4 linked regions of the Homo sapiens genome follow. The protein of the gene in region 4 interacts with the protein of the main gene of each other region in a pairwise test. Each region holds a gene or a part of one and is shown on either strand. Other genes may lie near its edges. The genes, in order: NOXA1, METTL21A, C22orf39 and ZNF620.

Evidence for each region.
Region 1: the proteins of ZNF620 (region 4) and NOXA1 interact in binary tests that used the Homo sapiens proteins (3 or more experiments, as listed by UniProt).
Region 2: the proteins of ZNF620 (region 4) and METTL21A interact in binary tests that used the Homo sapiens proteins (3 or more experiments, as listed by UniProt).
Region 3: the proteins of ZNF620 (region 4) and C22orf39 interact in binary tests that used the Homo sapiens proteins (3 or more experiments, as listed by UniProt).

Annotation. Positions count from the first base shown.
Region 1 is NC_000009.12:137,426,364-137,433,398, forward strand, and holds part of NOXA1 (NADPH oxidase activator 1), read left to right. Parts: exon of another isoform or gene 1-1,669; coding exon 1,670-1,778; intron 1,779-2,077; exon of another isoform or gene 2,078-2,253; intron 2,254-2,518; coding exon 2,519-2,653; intron 2,654-2,912; coding exon 2,913-3,020; intron 3,021-4,258; coding exon of another isoform or gene 4,259-4,387; exon of another isoform or gene 4,388-4,412; intron 4,413-4,420; coding exon 4,421-4,480; intron 4,481-4,711; coding exon 4,712-4,737; intron 4,738-4,872; coding exon 4,873-4,978; intron 4,979-6,665; coding exon 6,666-6,711; intron 6,712-6,841; coding exon 6,842-6,900; intron 6,901-7,035.
Region 2 is NC_000002.12:207,612,233-207,615,423, reverse strand, and holds the end of METTL21A (protein N-lysine methyltransferase METTL21A), read left to right. Parts: intron 1-1,980; coding exon 1,981-2,378; 3' UTR 2,379-2,685; downstream 2,686-3,191. UniProt on the Homo sapiens protein: Protein-lysine methyltransferase that selectively trimethylates residues in heat shock protein 70 (HSP70) family members. Contributes to the in vivo trimethylation of Lys residues in HSPA1 and HSPA8.
Region 3 is NC_000022.11:19,444,698-19,452,026, reverse strand, and holds the start of C22orf39 (synaptic plasticity regulator PANTS), read left to right. Parts: upstream 1-4,315; 5' UTR 4,316-4,338; coding exon 4,339-4,362; exon of another isoform or gene 4,363-4,481; coding exon 4,482-4,649; intron 4,650-7,329. Other genes in the region: UFD1 (ubiquitin recognition factor in ER-associated degradation protein 1), read left to right, coding at 1,283-1,357. UniProt on the Homo sapiens protein: Negatively regulates long-term potentiation and modulates adult synaptic plasticity. Stabilizes the interaction of RTN4 isoform A/Nogo-A with its receptors, inhibiting clustering of postsynaptic AMPA receptors at synaptic sites.
Region 4 is NC_000003.12:40,501,950-40,509,066, forward strand, and holds the start of ZNF620 (zinc finger protein 620), read left to right. Parts: upstream 1-4,089; 5' UTR 4,090-4,189; exon of another isoform or gene 4,190-4,251; intron 4,252-4,354; 5' UTR 4,355-4,403; coding exon 4,404-4,427; intron 4,428-6,791; exon of another isoform or gene 6,792-6,825; intron 6,826-6,863; coding exon of another isoform or gene 6,864-6,998; intron 6,999-7,117. UniProt on the Homo sapiens protein: May be involved in transcriptional regulation.

The sequences.
Region 1 (7,035 bases), on a different chromosome or scaffold from region 4:
GGCCCTTTGTCTCCCTGCAGAGTCCACTCCTGCACCTCCTCCTCCTCCCTCTCCATCCACTCCCTCCTCTTGCCCACCCCCTCCTCCATGGTTCCTGGCTCCAGGGAAACCTGAGACTGTGGCCCTCGCCTCTGCTGAGCGCCACCCTTGGACACAGGTCGTGGGGTCCTCACTGCTTACCTGGGCTCTCTGCACCATGTCCCTTCCTAAAGGAGGAATGAGGGAAAGGAGACCATCGGGACTGCAGACCAGGCCATGCCTCGGCCTCTCTGCTAGACACTCACAGGCCCCATCCCAGGAGGGCAGGCTCTGTGGGGAAGTGGATCACAGTCCCGAGAGCCTCGCAATCCTGAAATATCAAAACCCCTCAAATCTAAAATCCCAAAAAATATAATTCTAGAAAAAATAAAATTCTGTAAAAGATATTTATTTACTTTTTAAAAATTGTTTTGAGAAGGAGCCTTGCTCTGTCATCCAGGCTGGAGTGCAATTGTGCGATCTCGGCTCACTGCAACCTCCGCCTCCTGGGTTCAAGCGATTCTCCTGCCTTAGCCTCCCGGGTAGCTGGGATTACAGGCATGTGCCACCACGCCTGGCTAATTTTTGTATTTTTAGTAGAGACTGGGCATCACCATGTTGGCCAGGCTGGTCTCGAACTCCTGACCTCAGGTGATCCACCCGCCTCGGCCTCCCAAAGTGCTGGGATTACAGGAATGAGCCACCTCGCCCAGCCTATTTACATATTTTAAAGGGATTTATTTGAGAAACATAAAAACACGACGGAACCCTTCATTGGCCGATAAAATAGACAAAAATAACATACATATTTTTTCAAGCACAAATTCATGCACGCTAGCGACAGGCTCACGGGTGTGAGAACTACGAGCAGATGAACAGTGCTCATGAGGAGCTAGGTCAGAAGGGGTAAGACGTAGGTGCGTAGACTCTGGCTGGTGACTGTGTGCACCTGGCTTTATAACTGGTCATCAAAACACCAAGATGAACAACCCACCTTCTAACAAGATCCATCAAAGGCTTCAGGGACCACCACATACGCAGTCGCCCAGAGAGCCCGGATCTGGAGATATTTTACCTTTCAGAAAGGCAGATGAACGAAAAAGCCATCTCTTCCTTTACTGAAGAGTCCCAGCATTCGGGATTATGGCTGTGGGACTGTCCCTTTCTGGATTACGATCCAGACCCCTCTGGGGCAGCCTCTCCTTCACATCGGCGCGGGAAGCCCGCCTGGAGGAGAGGCCTCTCCGGCAGGCGCTGGGGAGCTCCCAGCAAGGCTTGGAAGGAGGCTCAGAGTTTGGAGGGGGAGCCCCCATGGGGTGGGGGGCCTGAGAAGCAGGAGGGAAATAACCAGGGCTCTCTGCACGGTTCAGAAGAGAGGCTTGGGGGCGGGCAGGGGCCCAGGAAGCTGAGTCTGAGCTGGGAAAATGGTGGAGCCCCAGCACACAGTGACCCCCACACCCACTCAGCACACATGTGCATGGACCCCTGGCCCACCAGACCTGAGTGTGCAGACCTAGGCACCGCACTGCCCTCCCTCAGGTCTCCTTGGAACCAGGTGTTGGGGGCGGCTCGAGCGGGGCTGGTGTGAAAGCTGCCTAACCACAGCCCCATCTCCGCCCTGTGCTGCTGAGGGGACCCCGGCTGCCCACAGGTTCCAGGAGGCTCTGTCTGACTTCTGGCTGGCCCTGGAGCAGCTGAGGGGCCACGCTGCCATCGACTACACGCAGCTGGGCCTGCGGTTCAAGCTGCAAGCCTGGGAGGTGAGGCCGGGCAGGGCTCACTGTGCTGCTGGCTGTGGGGTGTCCACGGGCGGTGGCACTGTCACAGGAGGGCCCTGTGGACTGGGGAGCGCCTCTGGCCGAAGCTCTTGGTGCCATGGAATACCCTGGCCACTCCTTGACCCGCAGGAGGTTCTGGTGGCAGTGGAGGTGGAGGGACCATTTTGTGCCATTTCAGGCCACCAGGGGTGGCTCCACCCAGAAGGAGGGCAGAGGCGAAAGGCTGCTGGGTGGGCAGGGAGCAGGCAGGGGGTTGTGCCCACCCTCCACTGTGCCCCCAGCCCTTTCCTGGCTGCCTGGAACGTGTTGGCACCGAAGGAGGGGTGCTGAGAGGCCCCCCCACCAGACCCCGGAAATGCATCGCCCTGAAGCCTTCTGGGAATAGCATTGTCTTTTAGGACAAAAAGATGGAAGGGAAAGCCCACTGGTGTGGGTCTGGAGTCAGGGTTAAAGCCAGGTGGGGGCCCGCCAGCCCAGGACACAGAACGGTGCAGGGGAGGGGCCGGGTGGGGGGATTGGGAGAGGAGCTGGGTGGGGAGACGGGGGAGAAGCCAGGTGGGGGGACTGGGGGAGAGGCTGGGTGGGGGGATGGGGGAGGGGCCAGGTGGGGGGACTGGGGGAGGGGCTGGGTGGGCAGACCGAGGGAGGAGCTGGGTGGGGGAACCGGGAGAGGGCCTGGGTGGGGCATCAGGCCCCTGCCATCACCTTGGCCCCACTCCCAGGTGCTACACAATGTGGCGTCGGCACAGTGCCAGCTGGGGCTCTGGACAGAGGCGGCCAGCAGCCTAAGGGAGGCCATGTCCAAGTGGCCGGAGGGGTCCCTGAATGGCCTGGACTCAGCCCTGGACCAAGTGCAGGTGAGGAGTGCCAGCCCGGTCATGGTTTTGGGCTGGTGCCTACCAAAGCTCCTCAAGACCAATTTCATGAGATGAAGAAGCTTCCGGAGGGAGATGGCCCTAGTGCCCAGTTTCGGGTGCCAGGCGGGGGCTTCCTGTGACCTGCGGGAAGGGGGTGGGGGGCCCAAGCGGCCCCTTCTGCTCCAAGGCACAGGGGCTCTGCGGCTGCAGGCCTGGTTGGTCACCCCGTCTGCATCTGCTGGATACCCACCCCCTCCAGAGACGGGGCTCACTGCCGCCACGGCAGGTCCCCAGGGGCGAGGTCTTCCGGCCCCACCGGTGGCACCTGAAGCACTTGGAGCCCGTGGATTTCCTGGGCAAGGCCAAGGTAAAGGTGGGGACGGCGTCCTGGGGCATGGCGGCTGGTGCTGAGCCCTCGAACTGTGTTCCCAGGGATGGGGGGAGGTGCAGTCCAGGCCACCGTAAGGGCCAGGAGGGTAGAGAGTGGGCCCACAGCCATCCTCAAACTGGCGCCCACGGTAGGGGGGCGGTGCCCCAAATGGGGCTGTGAGCTTGAAGGCAGAGCCCACTAGAGCCGGCTGCATAGGAGGGGGCTCCAGCTCTCTCAACAAGGACCCTGCAGGTGCCACCCCGCCCCCAGACTGGGCCATGGCCACAGCCACAGCCTTGCAGCCTCCCAGAGTCCCTGCGTCTCTCTGCGTCCTTTCATGCCTTTGTGTCTCCCTGTGTCCCTGCCACAGACAGCGAGGTCCCGGGGGGGTCCCTGCGTCCCTGCCACAGATAGCGAGGTCCCGGGGGGGTCCCTGCGTCCCTGCCACAGATAGCGAGGTCCCGGGGGGGGGGGGTCCCTGCGTCCCTGCCACAGATAGCGAGGTCCTGGGGGGATGCCTGTGTGCCTGCCACAGATAGCGAGGTCCCCGGGGGGGTGCCTGTGTCCCTGCCACAGACAGCGAGGTCCCAGGGGGGTGCCTGTGTCCCTGCCACAGGTAGCGAGGTCCCGGGGGGGGTGCCTGTGTCTCTGCCACAGCTAGCGAGGTCCCGGGGGGCGGGGGTGCCTGTGTCCCTGCCACAGATAGCGAGGTCCCGGGGGGTCTCCCTGTGTCCCTGCCACAGATAGCGAGGTCCCTGGGGGGGTCCCTGTGTCCCTGCCACAGATAGCAAGGTCTCACGGGGGCAGGGGCTGCAGTCCGACGGTCTGGGCCACGTCACGCCCACACTTGGGTCAGAGCCAGGCAACACCCCTAAAGTCACAGGAATGGGGAGCTGCTCACCCCCAAAGGCAGCGGGCGAAACATGGCGGAGAAGAAGAACTCCTGGTGGGCAAAGACTGGGTCACCCTTGGCTGGCCACGCCCCGGACTGGCCACGCCCCATTGGCTGGCCACGCCCCCTCGGTCACCTGCGCTGCGCCACGGCCGACTCCTGGGCCCAGTGCAGCTGCCCAGCAGGGGAGGCCTGGGGTGGGCGAAGCCGGGCTCTGAGCTGTGTTAATGCATTAACTTAGAGTCCGCATATCACAGTAGAGTGCTGTTTATAAGAAACCAAAATGTTTTTAAAGTTGTGCTAAAAATAAGTTAACATTGCAGCAGATGTTTTTCTCCATCAGACATTTCCCTCCATGGTGGTCTGGCAGACGTGGGCCGGGCATGGGCAGCTGTCACCCAGCCCCCGGGGACTTAGAGCTGCGGGGCACGGTGGGGCGGGCTGCAGGGAGCAGACCCTGCTGGGCCGCTGATCCCTGACCCAGCGTCCCCACTGTCCCCGCCAGGTGGTGGCCTCTGCCATCCCCGACGACCAGGGCTGGGGCGTCCGCCCTCAGCAGCCACAGGTGGGTTTGCGGCCCCTCAGACCCCTGCCTGGCCTCACCCAGCTTTCTGGGAAAGAAAATGCTGCACAAGCTCTGAGCCCTCCTGGGGCTGCGAAGTTCCTCTGATGGGAGGTGTGGGGTGGCCATCCCATCCCTGTGTAAGACCTGGGGAAACCACTCTTCAAGGTTCAGGAGGAGGGAGGGCGGCCCCCGACCCTTAACCAGAGCGAGGTTGTTGCTTTGTGTCCACAGGGACCAGGAGCGAACCATGATGCCAGGTAGGAGGGGCTGACTGGGCCCTGCGAGCGCGTGCCTTTCCTGCTGGGCAGAGGCCCTCCACATGGGGCCACGCGGGCCGGGCACAGGAGGGCAGTCAGATGGGCAGGGCCTGAGAGCCTCCCTCCTCTCCCTAGGTCCCTAATCATGGACTCCCCAAGAGCTGGCACCCACCAGGGCCCCCTCGATGCAGAGACAGAGGTCGGTGCTGACCGCTGCACGTCGACTGCCTACCAGGAGCAGGTGCGTGGGCCTGGGCCTCTTCCCCTGCTGGGGGTCGGTGCTTCTGCTGCCTCCGCAGACTGGGGACCACAATGGGACCAACATGAGGGTGGAGGGAGCAGCTCGCTGGGGGGTAGACGGGGCCGGGCTCACCCGTGGTCCTGGCCCAGCCCAGCCAGATGGGAGGATGCCTGGCTGTGCCCGAGGCGAGTGGGCATTGGCCATCAGGACAGGAGAGAGGTGGTGTCCAGTGGAGACATCCACGTAGCCCTGCAGGCCCTCAGCCCCCAGGACCACCTCAGTTTGGCCATTGCCCCTCCCCTCCCACTGGGGTGCGAGTGACCAGGAGTGACCCAGCTGGGGACAGGCGGGAGGCAGGACAGCTCTGGAGGGGCCCCAAGGCTCCCGCCCCCCATGGGGGCCCAGCAGCGACTCCATCCCCCGAGTCCTCCCGGACACCCCGGCACCTGGGGAGAGGCGGAGGAAGGCAGGAACCCCAGCTGCTCCCAGGGTGGCAGCCGTGGGCGGAGGCTCTGCTGCAGGATCCGGGAGGCCCAGAGAAGGCACCTGCATTTCACGCTGAGCGCATCTGAGGATGCGATCAGGAAGCAGCCCCGGCACTCTCTCTTTATGGATGCCCACTTCCAGTTTAACCGTGGCATCCCGGGGGCAAGGGCGCCCTCCAAGCTGTGCTTCACTAATTCCCTCAGGGTTTGGAACTATTTGCCCAGTTCCCACGATGGGCCTTTAAGCTCTCGTCCTTCCTAACCTAAGGCAACTTCAACCATCTGATAAATCTAATAATAAGTTACAATCGAGGCCGGGCACAGTGGTCTGTAATCCCAGCACCGTGGGAGGCTGAGGTGGAAGGATTGCTTGAGCCTGGGAGGTGGAGGCTGCAGTGAGCCATGACAGTGCCACTCCACTCCGGCCTGGGCAAGACAGCAAGACCCTGTCTCAAAAAAAAAAAAAAAAAAAGCCAGGCGAAGTGGCTCACGCCTGTAATCCCAGCACTTTGGGAGGCCTAGGCAGGCGGATCACAAGATCAGGAGATCGAGACCATCCCGGCTAACATGGTGAAACCCTGTCTCTACTAAAAAATACAAAAAATTAGCTGGGCATGGCGGCGGGCACCTGTAGTCCCAGCTACTCAGGAGGCAGAGCCAGGAGAATGGCGTGAACCCAGGAGGCGGAGCTTATAGTGAGCCAAGATGGCGCCACTGCACTCCAGCCTGGGCGACAGAGCGAGACTCCCTCTCAAAAAACAACAGCAATGCCTGACCCTCAGGGTCTAGCCAGCGCTGGGCTGTGACTTTGTGACTTGCAGCTGGTGAACTGGTCTCCTGCTCAGTGCCCAACTCAGGGCACACGGTTAATGTCGAGCCCACACAGAGGCCGGGGCCCAGGGACTGGGTCCTCAGCTTCCTGGGGTCACTGGGGAGCCCACCCACCTGGAGCTGCCACCTCGGTGGGCCTTGGGGGACGGGGCGCTCCCTCCTGGTGACAGGCAGCCTCTAGGTCTGCAGGGACCCAGCCCCATCCTAAGGCAGCCGACTTGTGGCCAGTGCCCTGAATTCAACACCCACAGACCACCTGCTGGGTGCTGGCCGGGCACACAGGCCACACCCTTGGTGTGGGCTCTGCGAGGACAGTACCGGCCTCCAGCACCTGACCGCCCCAGCCCACCCAGCCTGTGCTTCTCTTGCAGAGGCCCCAGGTGGAGCAAGTTGGCAAACAGGCTCCTCTCTCCCCAGGTATGGGCGTCCTCAGCGGCGGGGTCCCCGGGTGAAGGAGGAAGCTGCTGGTGCATGGGTGCCGGCTGCCCTCCACCCACAGGGCCCACTTTGGTGGTAGTGGCTGTGTCAGTCTTGCTCTGTCCTACAGGGCTGCCGGCAATGGGGGGGCCTGGCCCCGGCCCCTGTGAGGACCCCGCGGGTGCTGGGGTAAGAGGCTCTAGACCCTTCACCTGTCAGTCACCTGAGGGAGGCTGAGGCCAAGCCCCATCCCTCAGAATCAAGGCTTGCAAGCCCCCCTCACCTGCCCAGTCTCTGTCCACACCCCTCGGGCTGAAGACGGCC
Region 2 (3,191 bases), on a different chromosome or scaffold from region 4:
GCCTGGCCTAAAGTTGTTCTTTTAAGTGCAGCCTTGACCTCCTGGGCTCCAGTGATCCTCCCACCTCAGCCTCCTGAATAGTGCCACCACGCCTGGCTAATTTTTTTATTTTTTTGTGGAGATGGGATCTCTCTATGTTGTCAGGGCTGGTCTTGAACTTCTGGGCTCAAGTGATGCTCCTGCCTCGACCTCCCAAAGTGCTTGGATTACAGGTTGAGCTACTCGGCCTGGCTGTCTGCAATTTTTATTTTCAGAAAAGATGAAAACTGTCATTGAAATCTATCCATTGGGCAACACACTGTCTAGCAACGAATGGTCAAAGTGGTAGGTTCAGGCTTGTAAAATCTAACAACTTGAGCATTTTCATCAGTATCTCATAGTAGGACTGTAAATGTCAAATTGAATTACTGCCCTAACTTATGTGTCAAGATAAGAAACACTGAGTATCAGCTGCCACTGAAATAGTGCTTATTGCAACTAGTCTGGAATCCTGTGGGAAGATTACCTATGAAGATTACAAACTGAAGAAGGATGCAAATGGAAAGAATTTTATGAAAGATTGAAACATAATTTTAAATTTCAGAATTTCTGGGGTCAGAAGTAAAGAGTACTACACATATTATATCTTTCCTACAACGTAGATGAGGTGGATCCGACCTGACCTTATGTGCTTGCTCCACCTTAAGGTCTTCTCTTACCCACATTGGTTCAAAAAAAAGGATCTTTTTGTCAACAACCCATAAGAAACAGTTTAGTTTTTCTACACTGTGTGTAGAAACTTAGCATTAAGAACAAGCATTTTAACCTACATTAATAAAATTAAGTAATTTTTAAGCTTACAATTTTTCAAGAAATACGTAAAACATGTAAGTTGGCTGCTTCATAACAGCCTAAGGAGAAGTGGACTGGGATTTCTTAGTAGCCAATTTATTTCTTCCATGATTCTTTTTTAAACTGTAACCTTACAAAACAGCCTTTCTCTGTTTTTGGTATCTTGTCATCTTTGCAATAATAGTCTGCTCCCAGATATTTTTTTTTTTTTTGAGACTGGGTGTTGCTCTGTTGCCCAGGCACAATAACAGTTCACTGCAGCCTCGATCTCCCATACTCACATGATATCCCACCTCCGCCTCCTGAGTAGTTAAGACCACAGGTGTGCACTGTGCTTAATTAAAAAAAATTATTTGTAGAGATGGAGTCTCCCTGTGTTACCCAGGCTGGTCTTGAACTCCTGGGCTCAAGGGCTTCTCCCACCTCAGCCTCCCTAAGTGCTGGGATTACAGGCATGAGCCACTGTACCTGGCCTGCTCCCAGATATTTCATTCTTGGATTCCATTTTAGCCTGCGGCCAACTGACTTAAAGATAATGACCCAATGAATAAAGTATGGGCCAGCTCTGTTGGCAGAATTCAGAAGCATCAGCCGTGTCACTGGTTAATTCTACTTTTTTTTGAGATGGAGTTTTGCTCTTGTCACCCAGGCTGGAGTGCAGTGGCGAGATCTCAGCTCACTGCAACCTCTGCCTCCCAGGTTTAAGTGATTCCCCTGCCTCAGCCTCCCGAGTAGCTGGGATTACAGGTGCCCGCCACCATGCCTGGCTAATTTTGTATTTTTAGTTGGCCATGTTGGCCAGGCTGGTCTCCAACTCCTGACCTCAGGTGATCCACCCGCTTTGGCCTCCCAAAGTGCTGGGATTAAAGGCATGAGCCACCACACCCAGCCAATTCTGCAATTTATAGGCACAATTTTAGCAAATAGCAGGTATGTCATAGAGGCAAATCAAGAGTCACTTCTACCAGTAGTTAATGCAAAAGGAGCTGTGAGTCATTTTTCTATTGCAGCTGTCCATGAAAGGTGTGATTGATATTATGCATATCAGATGCAATATTTAAGAGACACTCTACATTTAACTTGACCCCCTCTCTACCTAACAGAATTGTACTGATGTACACATCACTTTTTCTTTGTTCCACATTGTAGGTGCTCATGTGACTATCACGGATCGAAAAGTAGCATTAGAATTTCTTAAATCAAACGTTCAAGCCAACTTACCTCCTCATATCCAAACTAAAACTGTTGTTAAGGAGCTGACTTGGGGACAAAATTTGGGGAGTTTTTCTCCTGGAGAATTTGACCTGATACTTGGTGCTGATATCATATATTTAGAAGAAACATTCACAGATCTTCTTCAGACACTGGAACATCTCTGTAGCAATCACTCTGTGATTCTTTTAGCATGCCGAATTCGCTATGAACGGGATAACAACTTCTTAGCAATGCTGGAGAGGCAATTTACTGTGAGAAAGGTTCACTACGATCCTGAAAAAGATGTACATATTTACGAAGCACAGAAGAGAAACCAGAAGGAGGACTTATAATTGGCTATAATTTATAAGAATGTTGTCATTGAGTGTGTCACTTAAGGTCTTAGACTGCAAATCTAACCATATTTAATGAAATGTCTTACTGTACAAAAAGTCTAAGCCAAAGGTTCTCAGGGGAGAAAGCACATGTGCAGTTTTAAAACAAAGCAGTGCTTTGTCCCATTGCTGTGATTTTTAGTCAGACTTTACTCAGTCTGAAATGCAATTAACATTAAAGGATTAAGTGTGAGATTTCGATTTATGCTATTTGTGTATCCCATACTCCTCCCTTTTAATAAACAGTTTCCACTGATGATATGAAGGGCCGGTATAAAGAAGTCTTTAAATGAGTAAGCTTTCTTGGTAAGATTAAATCTTACAAATTATTTTTAAAACCTTGTGATATATACAATGTTTAGCTGAGTTTTCTAATTTTCTGGATGTAAAACAAAAGGTTTAACCTATACATTCCTTGAGCTGTTAGTGCTATTTAAATCTTTTGCCCTGTTTAGGTCCTAAACACTTTTAGTTGAGTAGGATATGAGCTTTTTTGGGTCTCATATCATGCTTTTTGCCTTAATTTCAGGTATATATATATATATAAATAAAGGAATTAAGTAAAAATAAAATTTCAGTTACTTTTTAAAAGCACCTGAAATCTGGCCGGATGCGGTGGCTCATGCCTGTAATCCCACCACTTTGGGAGGCCGAGGCGGGCAGATCACCTGAGGTCAGGAGTTCAAGACCAGCCTGGCCAACATGGTGAAACCCCATCTCTACTAAAAATACAAAAATTAGCCGGGCGTGGTGTCAGGCGCCTGTAATCCC
Region 3 (7,329 bases), on a different chromosome or scaffold from region 4:
GATAATCCTCATGCATCTTTTCTCAGGAAGCTCCTAGGAGGTGTTCCTCACTAAAATGAAGGAATAAGGTAGAAATAAGAAAGTCATAGAATCCAGGAAATAAGGAGCCCCCACTAACATGTACGGCACCTAGAGAAAGGCCAGTCCAGGTACGGCAGGGCGAAGGCCCAGGAGACACAGGTTTGTCAAAACAGATGAACTCCATGCAATGCAGGCTGTGATTGAATAGAGGAAGAAGCCAAACACAGCTATTGACACCAGGATGAATGGAAGGCTGTGCGGCAAAGGAAGACTAAATGCAGCTGTGACTCAAATTTACATGAATGTGACCACATAAATACTAAACAGTGCTCTATTGCAGGTATAACATGCTACAGTTAGTGGGGAGCCAGGTGCAGGGATGTGTGTTGAACATTCCAGAATCCTCTTCTTCCTAGGGAAAAGTTGAGATAATGCCTCAGACTGACTAGCAATAAAAGCATGTGAAAAAAAATATGTGCAGTTTTCAAAGGTTTGGGAAAAAACAATCCCTCTTTCTGCTGATGGAAGGATAGCTTAGTGGAATGTTTCTGAGGGCTGGTTGGTCTCTATATGTTAAAAGCATTAAAAGTGTGTACACACTTTGACCCAGGAATTTGAGCTCTAAAAAAAATCAGAGTTGTGTGCAAATACATTAAGCTGCTTACCACAACAATGTCCACTGGTAGAAAACTGGCCCTCCTACATCATGGAATTCTTTTTTACAGAATTCAGTTCTGTAGCCTTGGGAGTATACTAGACAGGAAGTTTATTGGCATGAGATTTCAGAATTAAGTGGGAAAACAATTCTTTAAGCATGTACAGAAAAGTGACCTGAAATGTTTTTGGGTGATGAACTTACAGACTTTTTTTTTTTTTTTTTTTTTTGAGGCAGGGTCTTGCTCTGTTGCTCTGCCATCCAGGCTGGAGCAGTGGCACAATCATAGCTCACTATGGCCCTGGCTCAAACCATCCTCCCGTCTCAGCCTCCCAAGTAGCTGGGATCATAGGCACATACCACACTGAGCTATTTTTGGTAGAGATGGGATCTCACTATGTTGCCCAGGCTGGTCTTGAACTCCTGGGCTCAAGTGATCCTCCCACCTAGGCCTCCTAAAGTGCTGGGATTACAGGTGTCAGCTATCGTGTCCAGCCTGAGATATTTCTTATGAGTAATGTGGATGGTACGTGAGTCCATAGAGTAAGGCATTTATTGTAAACCTCCAGGGAGTTTCTGAAAATAGTATCTTCTCTTCAAACCTAGGATGAAGCTGGAGGCAGATTCGTCGCTTTCTCTGGAGAAGGACAGTCATTGCGTAAAAAGGGAAGAAAGCCCTAAGTGAGGACTGTTGGCTGATTGGAAAATAATAAAAGAATCATTTGCAACATCTTGGCTTTTAGTTACTGGCACTGACAGGGACGAGCCTCATCAGAGAATACTCTGTTACTTAAGATTTATTTAGAGTTACCTAAGAATTATTAAGTTTGACTTGGAAGTGGAGCAGCAGGACTTTGTAGTTGTATGCTTGATTTGGGGAAAGACAAAGAGCTGTCCCTGAGGGCCTGTAGATAGCTGCCTCCTCACCTCTTCACGCTTTCAGCTTGAGGGGAGCTCCCACTGCCTCAGCAGGAGCAATTCTGCATCCCTAATTCTGTCAAAACCTATGAAGGTGACTAAATTGTCTAACATGAAGTGTTCTTTCTTTTTCTTCATTTATCCTTTCTTTTCCTACATCAATTGCATAGGTGTCAGTCTTTGGCCTAAAAAAAGGCTTTAAATAGACATGTGTTCTATAAGTAGTGGCTGTCCCACTACTGTGGCTGCAATTTAAGTATTTGACAAAGAATGTTTCTATTTTTATTTTACATATTTTTTTCAAAAACACCACTCAGAAGAACCTGATCTGAATGAGTTTGCACTTTTATTCTCATTTCATATGGACATAACTGGCTCCTTAGTGAACCTGTTCATAGTGAAACAACTCCATGGAGAAGCAAACATGTGAATGTTAGAATGAACAAATGCTAAAGAGATGTTCCTCTCCTTCTTCCCTACTCCCCAACTCCCAATTTTAATTTATTAAATCATCCAAGCTTCTGCTGGCCTGTATTTTTTATCAGTATTTATTTGGTCTTAGATCTTCACTTTCTATAACGTGAGATCTTTTGACATGCTAATCTGATTATTTTAAATTTGTTCCCATGAGCCACTGTGCCTGGCCCCATTGGGAATAATTCTAAGCCAAGAATTTCAAGTAAAAACAGGCAATAACTAAAGCCTAAATCTAAATGTTTGATTAGGTACTAACACAGACTGGTGGTTGGGCCTCTGACCATAACTGAAGGCCTGTTGGCAGGTGCTCCGTGTTCCATCTCACCATTAGAAAAGTGTCCCTCTGGGGCTTCTCCTGGAGAAAGTAGGAAGAAACAAGGCTGCCTGATCCCTAGGTGGCAATGGCTAAGCCCAGCAGGGTCCCCCATGAGCCAGGGCTAACCCTGCTTCCAGACATGGGGGTCCTGCCCTGGTCAGGGCCCCTCCAACACTCCAGAGAGGAGAGAATGGTGGCCCCAGGGTCTATCCACGTCTTCAGTGAAGAGTGTCTATGAGTGTCATGATGTTCAGTACTTGGCCTGTGGCACAAACCATCATCACTGGAAATGGGCGTGGTTTTGGAAGGCATGAGCACTGTGGGGACTTACCTGAGCCTCCACTGACAAAGTCTCAGTTTTACTAGCAGAGGGAGAAACCCTTGGTGGGTAGACAGCCTTCATTTGCAGGATCACATCAGCTAACAGACTGTCACTTTATGCATAATGAAGAATGTTACAGTACCTCTGGCTCTGGGTTTTTGTCTTCACTAAGCAACACCTGCTGTGTATGCAGTGAAACGCCTGGTCCTTTGCTGGAGGCACACTCCCCTGCCTGGACCAGGATGGATTCCATTGCAGAGCCTTTTAATGACACAGTGGGGCCAGTTGGAGCACTGATCCTGGTCATTACTCCTGCACCCTGGCCTGCAGCCTTCCTCTCAGTGTCTTATTTGGGCTTGGTCCTTGAGCCGGCTGCCTCAACAGCAGGACCCCTGGTAAAACTGCAGCTTTCTGATCCACCTCCAGGGAGTCTGTCCCAGTGTCATTCCTGGGACTGGCCCAGCAGTCCCAGGATTTGTATCAGTGGATACTGAGGATTTGTTATCAGTGAAGTGGGAGAACCGCAGCATAGGTACTGCAGGGCGTTTCTGCAAGCCCACCAGCCTCCTCTTTACTTGCCTTTGTTGCCTCTTGTGCATTGCTCCTTTTTATAAACGTCCCAGCCAGGCACTGGCGCTCCGCCTATAATCCTAGCACTTTGGGAGGCCAAAGTGAGAGGGTCGCTTGAGGCCAAACTAGCCTGGGTAACTTAGCAAGACCCCATCTTTACAAAAAAAAAAAAAAAAAATTAAAAATTAGCCTGGTGAGGCTGTGCATGCTTTTGGTCCCAGCTGTTCGGAGTCCAGGAGTTTGAGGTTGCAGTAAGCCATGAACACGCCACGCCACTGCACTAAGCCTGGGTGACACAGCAAGACCCTGTCTCGAAAAATGAATAAGGTAAATGTTACATGTCTCCCGCACCCTTAGAATAGAACTACAGACATCCAAGCCACTCCTACCCCGCTCACCCCTGCTACACACCGCCTCCATACCTTTGACCGGCCTATGGCTGTACTCGGATTGCATTCTCAGCCTCCACTTCAAGCCTGCGTTCCCTGGGGAGGTCATTCAACCCTAGATCCACCATATGTCATGCCCAACCAATCTCAGTTACTTTGCGAGTTCACCTCCATCCTGAGTGGACGCTCAAGCAAGACTGCTGGAGCTGCAGATCTGGGAGGTTCGCTGCACCACCTTGATGCTCAGTATGTACTTTTGAAAATATACCGGATTGTTGAGATTTGAGAAAATCTCATAAAGCTGCTGAAAAGAACTGGCCAGAGCCGTGTGATTTGAGAGGCGGCTGACGTAAGGTAGCTGCGCGGCCCAGGATGCCCGCCTGGCCCGGGGTGAATGGCGCTGTCGTCGCGGTGGTCGCGTAGGCTTCGCGCCAGGTCTCGCCCCGGATTTACCCTGCGACCCCGGCCCTCCGCGCGCGCCGCAGCCGCCCTCGGTTGCTATTGGTTGCTCGTCCTGTTTGTCGGCGCTTCTCGAAGAAGGGGGCGAAGACGTGATTGAATGTGTCGGTGCTCATTAGTTCTTCTGTCAGTCGATCACGAGGTGCCGTTTTCTTCATTTTTCATTGGCTGGCGGACTGAGGGGCGGGCTTGGCGCGCCGGTCGCCCAGACATGGCGGACGGCAGCGGCTGGCAGGTGAGTGTGCTGGGTCGGAGCCGGGAACCACCGGGGTCTTCCGGAGGGAGGGAACGGGACTGGCTCGGGGCGTAGGGCGCGGCCGCCGGGCCCCGCTCAGGCGCCGCCTCTCGCCGCAGCCGCCGCGCCCCTGCGAGGCCTACCGCGCCGAGTGGAAGCTCTGCCGCAGCGCCAGGCACTTCCTACACCACTACTACGTCCACGGCGAGCGGCCGGCCTGCGAACAGTGGCAGCGCGACCTGGCCAGCTGCCGCGACTGGGAGGAGCGCCGGAACGCCGAGGCCCAGGTGCGCCGGGAGGGAGCGGGGCGGCGCTTCGGAGCGCCTTGCGGGGCCCAGCTTTCCCCACCCCTCCACGCCCCATGCCCCGCGACCTAGCCGGGGACTGACGGGGTCCCTATCCTCCTCACGCTTCCTTTCTTTTGAGAGATTGTGTAAATTAGCATATCAACAGGACTTTCAGAGGGCGTGAAAGACAAAGGAGGAGACCAGCGAGGAGGGGGTGTAGAGTGGTTTAGAGAGGGAAGAGGGCAGCCGTCCGGTGTTAGGGTCATCAGCTGGCCTACGCAGGAGGTGATGTTGCTGAGTCCTGAGTGACCAGGAGCCAGCCTTCATCCAGCCCCGGTAGACACCGCTGAGAAACAGATAAGGCCTGGGTTCCTGAAGCAGAGGGTAGGTGGATGGTTGGAGAGCGGTATACCAGGGACCTGGCGGGCCTTTTGATACGGAGTTTAGAGTTTAGTCTAAAGTGTGCTGGGAGGCATAATTCGATTTATATCTTTAAAAGATCAGTCTGTTAGCAAAGTGTGGTGGCGTGCACCTGTGGTCCCAGCTACTTGGGAGGGTGAGGCGGGAGGATCGCCTAAGCCCAGGAGTTCAAAGCTGCAGTGAGCTATGGTCACACCACTGCACACCAGCCTGGATAACAGAGGGAGACCTGTCTCAGGGGGGAAAAAAAAGAGAGAGGGTAAAAGAAGTTCAATCTGTTTGCTAGGGTGTAGAGAATATATTACAGGAGCAGAGAGACCGGTAAGGAGGTGGTTCTAGTTGTTTTTTCGTCCAGCAAATATGTACCACATTGGGTGCTCTTGGGGATGCACGAGTGATAAGAAGAGTCTCTGCCCTCCTGGCACCCACACTGTAGTGTAGAATACAGTGCTACGGTGGACCCCTTGTGGGAGAGGAGATGGAGAGAAGCCAGCCGAAAGGTGCGAGGCTCATGGGGAGTGCCAAGGAATGAGAATCAATGGGACTGATCAACACTTCAACATTATTAAGTGTATACAGTGATCTGAAAGAGATGAACTGATGTGGAAACCAGACTGCTGTATAAAAGAAAATGATGACTATTCCATAATATGTGAAAGTCAAAAAAAGTAAGAAAGCTGACAGCTTATATAGCAAGAGATTGATAACTTTAATGTATATATATGTGCGTGTGTGTGTATAAAGAGCTGTTATATATATATCAATAAGAAATATAGGGATTATTTCAGAATGGAAAAATGGCCAAAGGACACAAAGAAGCAATTCATTAAAAAAGAAAGCCAGCTGGGCATGGTGGTGGGCACCTGTAATCTCGGCACTTTGGGAGGCCGAGGCAAGGGGATCGCTTGAGCCCAGGAGCTTGAGACCAGCCATGGGCAACATGGTGAGACTCCATCTTTATAAAAATAATAAAAAAGGAGAAAAGCCTGGGCATGGTGGCTCATGCCTGTAATCCTAGCACTTTGGGAGGCCGAGGTGGGCAGATCACCTGAGGTCAGGAGTTTGAGACCAGCCTGGCAACATGGCGAAACCCCATCTCTACTAAAAATACGAAAATTAGCCACGCATGGTGGCAAACACCTGTAATCTCAGCTACTCGGGAGGCTGAGATAGGAGAATTGTTTGAACCTGGGAGGCGGAGGTTGCAATGAGCCGAGATCGTGTCACTGCACTCCAGCCTGGGCAACAGAGTAAGACTCCCTCTCAAGAAAAAAAAAGAAAAAATCAAATGGCCAGGTGTCAGGTATATAAGTCTAAATGACAGTAACAGCAGAAAGTGGTGTTGATAGAGGTTTGAAGAATTCTGGGTAGTTGTGCAGTGTTGGTGGGGGTGTCAGGTGTTCTGATTATGTAAATGTCAGATACATACCTTTTGACCTTAAGTTTTACTTCTGGAACTTTATCCCAGGGAAGTAATTGGATAACAGTGTACAGTTAAAAGTTAGAATGCTAATTATGTTTTTGATACTGCAAAAGCTGAAAACAACCTAAATTTCACTAATAGACATTTGACCAAATAGCTTTTTCCACAAAGTGAAATACCAGATAGCCTTTGAAAAGAATGGTCGGTCATCTCCCTGGGTATGGAAAAGTGCCTACAGTGTATTGTTTAGTGAAAAGAAAGCAGGAAGTAGACTAGCCAGCAAAAGATTATCCTATCTTTAGGGAAACATGTTAGCTCTAAAATGTGGACCAAAAAAAGATATCAGGGAAGCTGTTAACTGCCGCATTGGGAATGGACATTTGGGAATCTTTAATATTCTGTACTACATTTCTGATAGCTTTTTAAACACGATCAAAATATTTTATTTGAGGCAATAGAGCTTGAACAAAGACAGACATGTAGACAGATTAAGTTATCTGTGTAAAGAGGCTCACATAGCACCTGATACCTACCAAGGGCTGACAGCAAAGGTCACCCATGTTGTGATACACTGACTTGTGTCTGTATTGGGAGACAGTAGCCAAGAGAAGCTGATGGGTTAAGTGGCACTTGTGGCACCACTCAGGCGGGTGGTCTGTCCTCTGGACTCTTCCCACCCTTCCAGGATACCCAGGACATGTATTTCTTCCCCGTCTTCCTCCCTTCTCCCTAACACACTCCTCCCTGCAGCTCCCCACAGCTGCTCTCTCAGACTCTTCTCTCCTCTCCACCCAGCACCCCCAGGCTCACTCTCAGCAGGTGAATATGCCCCAGACT
Region 4 (7,117 bases):
CTGAGGCAGGAGAATCACTTGATCCCAAAGGTGGAGGTTGCAGTGAGCCAAGATCGCACCACTGCACTCCACCCTGGGTGACAGAGCAAGACTCTGTCTCAAAAAGAAAAAAAAAGGCACTTGTTCAAGAGTAGGGCTGTCCACAGTTAGACCCTGCTAAGGAATGACTGTTCGTTATCTCACCTCCTAATTACAGGGAAAGAGTGTGGTCTGGCCCCACTCAGATCATATATTCATTCTTGATTAATTCAACTATGGGTGGGGGAGCAGAATTACACAGTATTTACACAGCTATCTGGGACTCACTGCTGTTGGTGAGGAGGGCAGTTAAAGGGGCTGTTGTATGCTGATAGATACTCTACAAAGACCGTACCATGTTGAGCATATACTTCCTAGACTAAGTTCATTTCCCTCAACACTCCATGCCAGAGGCTCTTAACCCAACTGCCCATTAGAACCACTTGGGATGTTGTGTTTTTGTTTTTGTTTTTTAATACCAATGCCTAGGCTGAATCCTAGACCAATTATTTCAGAATCTCTGGGAGCAGGTCCCAGGTATCAGTATTTTTTTTTTAATTCCCTAGGTAATTATAAGGTGATGCTACAAAGAACCACTTTTTTTTTTTTTTTTTTTTTTTTTTTGAGATGGAGTCTTGCTCTGTCACCCAGGCTGGAGTGCAGTGGCGCGATCTTGGCTCACTGCAACCTCCACCTCCCAGGTTCAAGCAATTCTCCTGCCTTACCCTCCTGAGTAGCTGGGATCACAGGCATGTGCCACCATGCCCAGCTAAATTTTTTTTGTATTTTTAGTAGAGACAGGGTTTCACCATATTGGCTAGGCTGGTCTCAAACTCCTGACCTCAGGTGATCTGCCTGCCTCAGCCTCCCAGAGTGCTGGGATTACAGGTGTTAGCCACCGCGCCCAGCCAAATAACCACTTCTGTAGACCTTTGCTACTCAAATTGTCACCTGAAGACCAGCAGCATTGGCATCACCTGGGAGATTTATCAGAACTACAAGCTCACTGAATCAAACTCTACTCTTTGACAATGCTACCAGGTGACTTCGTGGACACACTAAGGTTTGAGAAGCATTACTCCAGACCCTGCTCCATGTGTGTGTCTTGGCATCTAATATTGCCAAGAAGAAGTCTGAGGCAGCCTGATTTTGCTTCCTTTTCAGTCTGGAAATTTGCAGAACTTTAAATCTTAAATTTTCGTAATTTCACTAGGATATGTCTTGTTGCTGGTTTTTCCCCATTAAAATTTCCTAGAATTTAGAGAGCATTTTCAGCCTGCAGATTCTCCTCCCTGATGAATGGCTTTTTCCTTCAAGTTTGTCCTATCAGGATTAGAACTAGGGTTAGATTTAAGGACACAACCCATTTTAAGATTATGTTGTCTTTCTAGTATGTATATATTTTTTAAATTGAGGTATCACTGACATACAATAAGCCATGCATAAAGTGTATGATTTGATAAGTTTTGCCATATGTATATGTCTCTCAAAAAATAACACAATCAAGATAACAAACATAATCATACCCCAAAAAGTTTCCTTATGCCCTTTTATAATCTCTCCATTCCAGCCTGCTCCTCTCCTGCCTCCAGCCCCAAGAAACCACCAATCTGTTTTCTTTTACTATAGTTTTCCTTTTCTAGAATTTTATATAAATGCTATCACACAGTATGTACTCTTTTTAAAGTTATTATTTTTTTTGGTGTGATGTCTTTCACAACACAGAATTATTTTGAGATTCACCCATGTTGTTGCATATATATCAGTAGTTCATTCCTTGTTATTACTGAGTAGTATTCCACTGTATGGATATGCCACAACTTAACTCAAATGATGGCCATTTGAATTGTTTCCAGTTTTTGGCTATTATAAATTAAGCTGTTATGAAAATTTGTATGCAAGTCTTTGTAATGTAAGGACATATGTTTTCATTTCTCTTGGGTAAATAACAAGAGTGAAATGGCTAGATAATAAGGTAGGTGTATATTTAATTTTTAAAGAATCTGCAAAGTTTTTCCAAAGAGACTGTGCCATTGTACATTTCCATCAGTATTGTATGGGTTCCACTTCTGATACATCTTTGCCTACACTTGATGTTGTCTCTACTTTTAGCTTTTCTAGTAAGTGTGTAATACTGTTTCACTGCGGTTTTAATTTGCATTTCTCTAATGACTAACAATGTTGAGCATCTTTTCAAATATTTAATTGCTTTCCATATATCTTCTTTGGTGAAGTATCTGTTCAAATCTTTTGCCTATTTTTAAAAATTGGTTTATTTTCTTATGAGTGAGTTTTGAGAGTCCTTTATATATTTTGGAAACAAGTCTTTTATCAAATATTTTTGGTATTTTCTCCCAGTCTGTGGCTTGTCTTTTCATTCTCTAAAAGTATCTTCTGAAAAGCAGAAGATTTAACTTTGATTAAGTCCAATTTATCATGTTTTTTTCCACTGGCTAATACTGTTTAGAATTTGTGGTGTATATGTATGTACGTTTATGTGCACCCACTCATGGTAAATGTTCATTTTAATAGGTTTAGCGAAGGGACAGTATGCACATGTATGTCCTTGTCATGCCATTGTTTCTGGAAATCTAATTATTTAAAACAAGTGCTGTGCATAAACTTTAAAGTGAAAATACTATAGATTTTATAAAATGAACTGTTTCTGTGACAGTTAAAATCTCTGTGCTAGGTGGCCCCACAATGGCTCCCAATGGTTCTCATATCCTGGCATTCAAACCTTGTGTATCTCTTCCCACACTGAATCATGACTAATCTGAGGAGAATGTATTGAGGAAATCATGATGCATGATTTCCAAAACTAGGTCATAAAAGCTTTGGCCTTGGCCTCTTGGATTGCTCACTTTGGGAGAAAGCTACATGCCATGTTGTGAAAACCCTCACATGGGAAGGAACTGACGCTTCCTGCCAACAACCAGCACCCACTTGACAGCCATGTGAGTAAACCACCTTGGAGGTGGATCCTCCAAACTCAGTCAAGCTTCAGATGACTTCAGCCCCACATGACACCTGACTGCAACCTCAGCAGAGACCCTCAGCCAGTACCACCCAGCCAAGCTGCTCTTGAATTCTGGGTCCACAGAAACTGTCAAAAGATAACAATGTTTATTGTTTTTAGCCACAAAGCATTAGAGTAGTTTATTATCCAGCAGTAGATACATAATATACTCTCCATGGCAGGACTTGTTTTGAAAGTGGTGGATAAATCTAATTCCTGTGGAAGGAATAACTAAAATCTGTTTCCAGGCTGGGCCGGGACACACATCCCAGTACAGGGCAGGAAAGGGCTCTAAGCCAAATGTTAATAGCTCTTTCGCTAAACTTCGAAAATTGTCCTTAAAAAAATCTATTTCCCTAAAGCACGCCACATATTGGAGTCCCAGCAGCACCTATTTTGTGTCTTCAAAAAACACAATTGGAAAACAAAACAATACAAACTCACGAGTACATACTATGTGCCAGGCACAACTGTAAATAATTTACCTATCAATTAACTAATTTAATGAATTAACCCTGAACAGCCTCAAGAGGTTGGTACCACCATCATAATACCCATTTAATAGACAAGGAAACCGGGGCAAAGAAACTTGCTGCAGGTCACACAACTAGCAAGTGGTGCAGCTGGGTTTCTGGACCTACGTAGTCCATACACATTCGGCCTTCTGAGTAATGGGTTCGCCTTTCCCCACACCCACTTTTCCCACTGCAGCGCACCCACACAATCCAGACAGTTTTGGCGCATGTGAAGGGCGCGATGGTCCCTTCATTATCTGGAAGGACACCCAGAGTGGCAAATGCCAGATAACCACGAATAATACCCAGGATAGTAACCATTCTGTGGCCTGAGCTGGCCAGACGTCATGCCCCGAAGGAGCTACCAGGTGTGGGCGCTGCAGGACCCCTGCCTGGGGCCGCCCGCTCGGGCCCGTGTTGTCTCAGGCAGTAGGGACACTGGCGCTGACGGCGGGGGTAGGAAACCACAGAGACTGGCAACTTCCCAGGTTCCTAGAGAGGAGGGGCATGGAAAACGCACTTCCGGCGGAGGGTCTCAAGCTTTCCCCGGTGTCGGCGGCAGGTGGAATTTCCACGCTTTATCTGCGCCTGCGCCGCGCGGGATTCGCGGTCCGAGCTGAAGAGGTTCGCGGTCCGGGTAACTGATTGGTTTTCCTGGGGCTTGTTCTGCCTGGTTTTGCAACCCCTTTGCTTTTTGGGGTGAGGAGTTGGCGGAAAGGAGAGGGGCCCAAGTAGCACAGAGGGCATTTGCGGGGTGCGAGGCAGCATCAATCTCACCGGTGCTTCTTTATTTTCTCTTCAGTTTCACTTCTCCGAACCCTGAGGCAGTGTGTGAAGCTGGGACGCCAGCCATGTTCCAGACCGCTTGGCGCCAGGTGAGTGAGCATCCTCTCCCTCCCTCCCACCCTTTAGATGTCAAGAGAGAGCAGGTGTCACCTCTGCATTCAGATCTTGAGTTGTGTAGGCCAGTGGCTTCCATTGTGCATCTGTCACTATGAGAGGGATGGAGAGGTGAGAATGCCCAAATTAAGACTAGAAAACTAGTGAGTGTGGGGGGATTGGTTGGGATTTGGCATTTGAAGCCAGCTTAAAAATAAAAATTATGAAATGTGGAAATCTGCATTATTACATCCAATAAAGACCCCTTTCACCCTAGTCCGCAGGCTTGGAGAAGTACTTACTTCTTCAGTATAGCAATTCTAGTAACTGTTTTGTAGATTCCATTGTATTTTCTACATAGGTCATCTATGAGTAAAGATAGTTTTACTCCTTTCTTTCCAGTCTGGATGCCTTTTATTTTATTTTGTCTTGCCTTACTGCACTGGCTAGAAGCATTATTTCAATATTGAACAGAAGTGGTGAGAGCAGATATCTTTGTCTTATTTATGCTTTTAAAGTGAAAGCATTCAATCTTTCACACTGAAGACTGATGTTCACTGTAGGTTTCTTGCTTTTTTGTTTTGTTTTGTTTTGTAAATGTCCTTTATCAGGCATTCTCTTCTAGTACTACTTTGGTGAGAGTTTTTATAGGAATGGATGTTGGATTTTGACAATTGCTTTTTCTGTGTCTATTTAGATGACCATATGGTTTTTTTTTTTTTTTTTTTTTGAGATGGAGTCTTGCTCTATCGACAGGCTGGAGTGCAGTGGCGCGATCCTGGTTCACTGCACCCTCCACCTCTGGGGTTCAAGCGATTCTCCTGCCTCAGCCTCCCGAGTAGCTGGGACTACAAGCACGCGCCACCACACCCAGCTAATTTTTGTATTTTTAGTAGAGACCAGGTTTCACCATGTTGGCCAGGATGGTCTCGATCCCTTGACCTCGTGATTCCCCCACCTTGGCTTCCCAAAGTGCTGGGATTACAGGCGTGAGCCACCGTGCCCAGCCTCTCTTTGTTAATGTGGTGAATTACATGATTTTTCTTTCAAATATTAAACCAACTCTGCGGTGGGATAAAACCGACTTCGTCATGGTGTATTATTATTTTATTAGTACTATATATTGAATTTAATTTGTTAAAATTTTATTTAGAATTTCTGTATCTATGTTTATGAGGTATTGATTTGCAGTTTTCTTTTCTTGTGATGTCTTTGTTCCATAGAATGAGAAATATTCCCTCCTCTTTAATATTTTGGAAGAATTTATGTAGAGTTGACTGCATTTCTTCCTTAAATGTTTGGTAGAATTCAACAGTGAAGCTATCTAGGCATGGGGTTTTCTTTCTGATAAGGTTTTTAAGTACAGTTTTGAGTCCTTTGGTAGATACAGGGGCTACTCTGGTTATCTCTTTTTATTTATTTATTTTTATTTTTTGACAACGGTTTTCTCTATGTTGCCCAGGCTGACCTCAAATTGGGCTCAAGCAATCCTCCCCGCTCAGCCTCCCAGGTACCTGGGACTACAGGCATGCATCACTACGCCCAGCTTAAATGAGTTTTGGTAACTTGTGCCTTTCAAGGAACTTATCCATTTTATCTAAGTTGTAGAAATTATTCACATAAAGTTGTTCATAATATGTGCTTATCTTTTATTACCTGCAGTGATGTCACTTCTTTTATTACTAATATTAATGATTTGTGTATTCTCTCTTTTTTTCTGGTCACTGGCTAGAGGTTTATGAATTTTATTAATTTTTCTTTAAGAACTAGCTTCTGGTTTCATTACTTTTCTGTTTTATGTCATTAGTTTTCACTTTGATCTTTAATGTCTTTTTTATATTTATTTTGTGTTAAATTTGCTATTCTTTTTTTAGTTTTAAGGGGGAAGCTGAAGTCACAGATTTGAGATCTTTCTTTTTTTTTTGTTTTGTAAAATAGGCATTTAGTGCTATACATTTCCTCCCAAGTACCGCTTTAGCATTATCCCGCAAATTCTAGTACATGGTGTTTTCATTTTCATTCAGTTCAAAATACTTTGTACATTCTCTTATGGAAGTGTGTTACTGACTTTACAAATATTTGGGGATTTTCCAGGAGTCTTTCTGTGATATCAAATTTAATTGCATTACAGTCAGAAAACATACTTTGTATGACTTGAATCATTTTGATTTTATTGAGCTTTCTTTTATGGCCCAGAATATGGACTGTCTACCTATCTACATTGTCTTATATGAATTTAGCCACTGCAGCTTTTTTTTTTTTCTTTTTTCCTTAGAGACAATCTTACTCTGTCTCCCAGGCTGAGTGCAGTGGTGCAATCACAGCTCACTGCAGCCTCCACCTCCCAGGCCTAAGTGATCCTCCCAAGGAGTTGAGACTAAGTTGAGACTACAGGTACAGACCACTGTGCTTGGCTCTCTTCTTTTTCCTAGAGACAAGGTTGCCTAGGCTCTTCTCAAACTCCTAGATGCAAGCCATCCTCCCGCCTCCACCTCCCAAAGTGCTGGGATTACAGGCATGAGCCACCATGCCTGGCCTTACAGTTTTCTTTGGCTAATGTTGTCATGGTATGTCTTTTTCTATTCTTTTGCTTTTAATTTATCCCTGTCTTTATATTTAACGTACATTTCTTGAAGGTTCTTCAAGCAATGTACTATCTTAAGCAGATAGTAGGTTCTTATTTGCT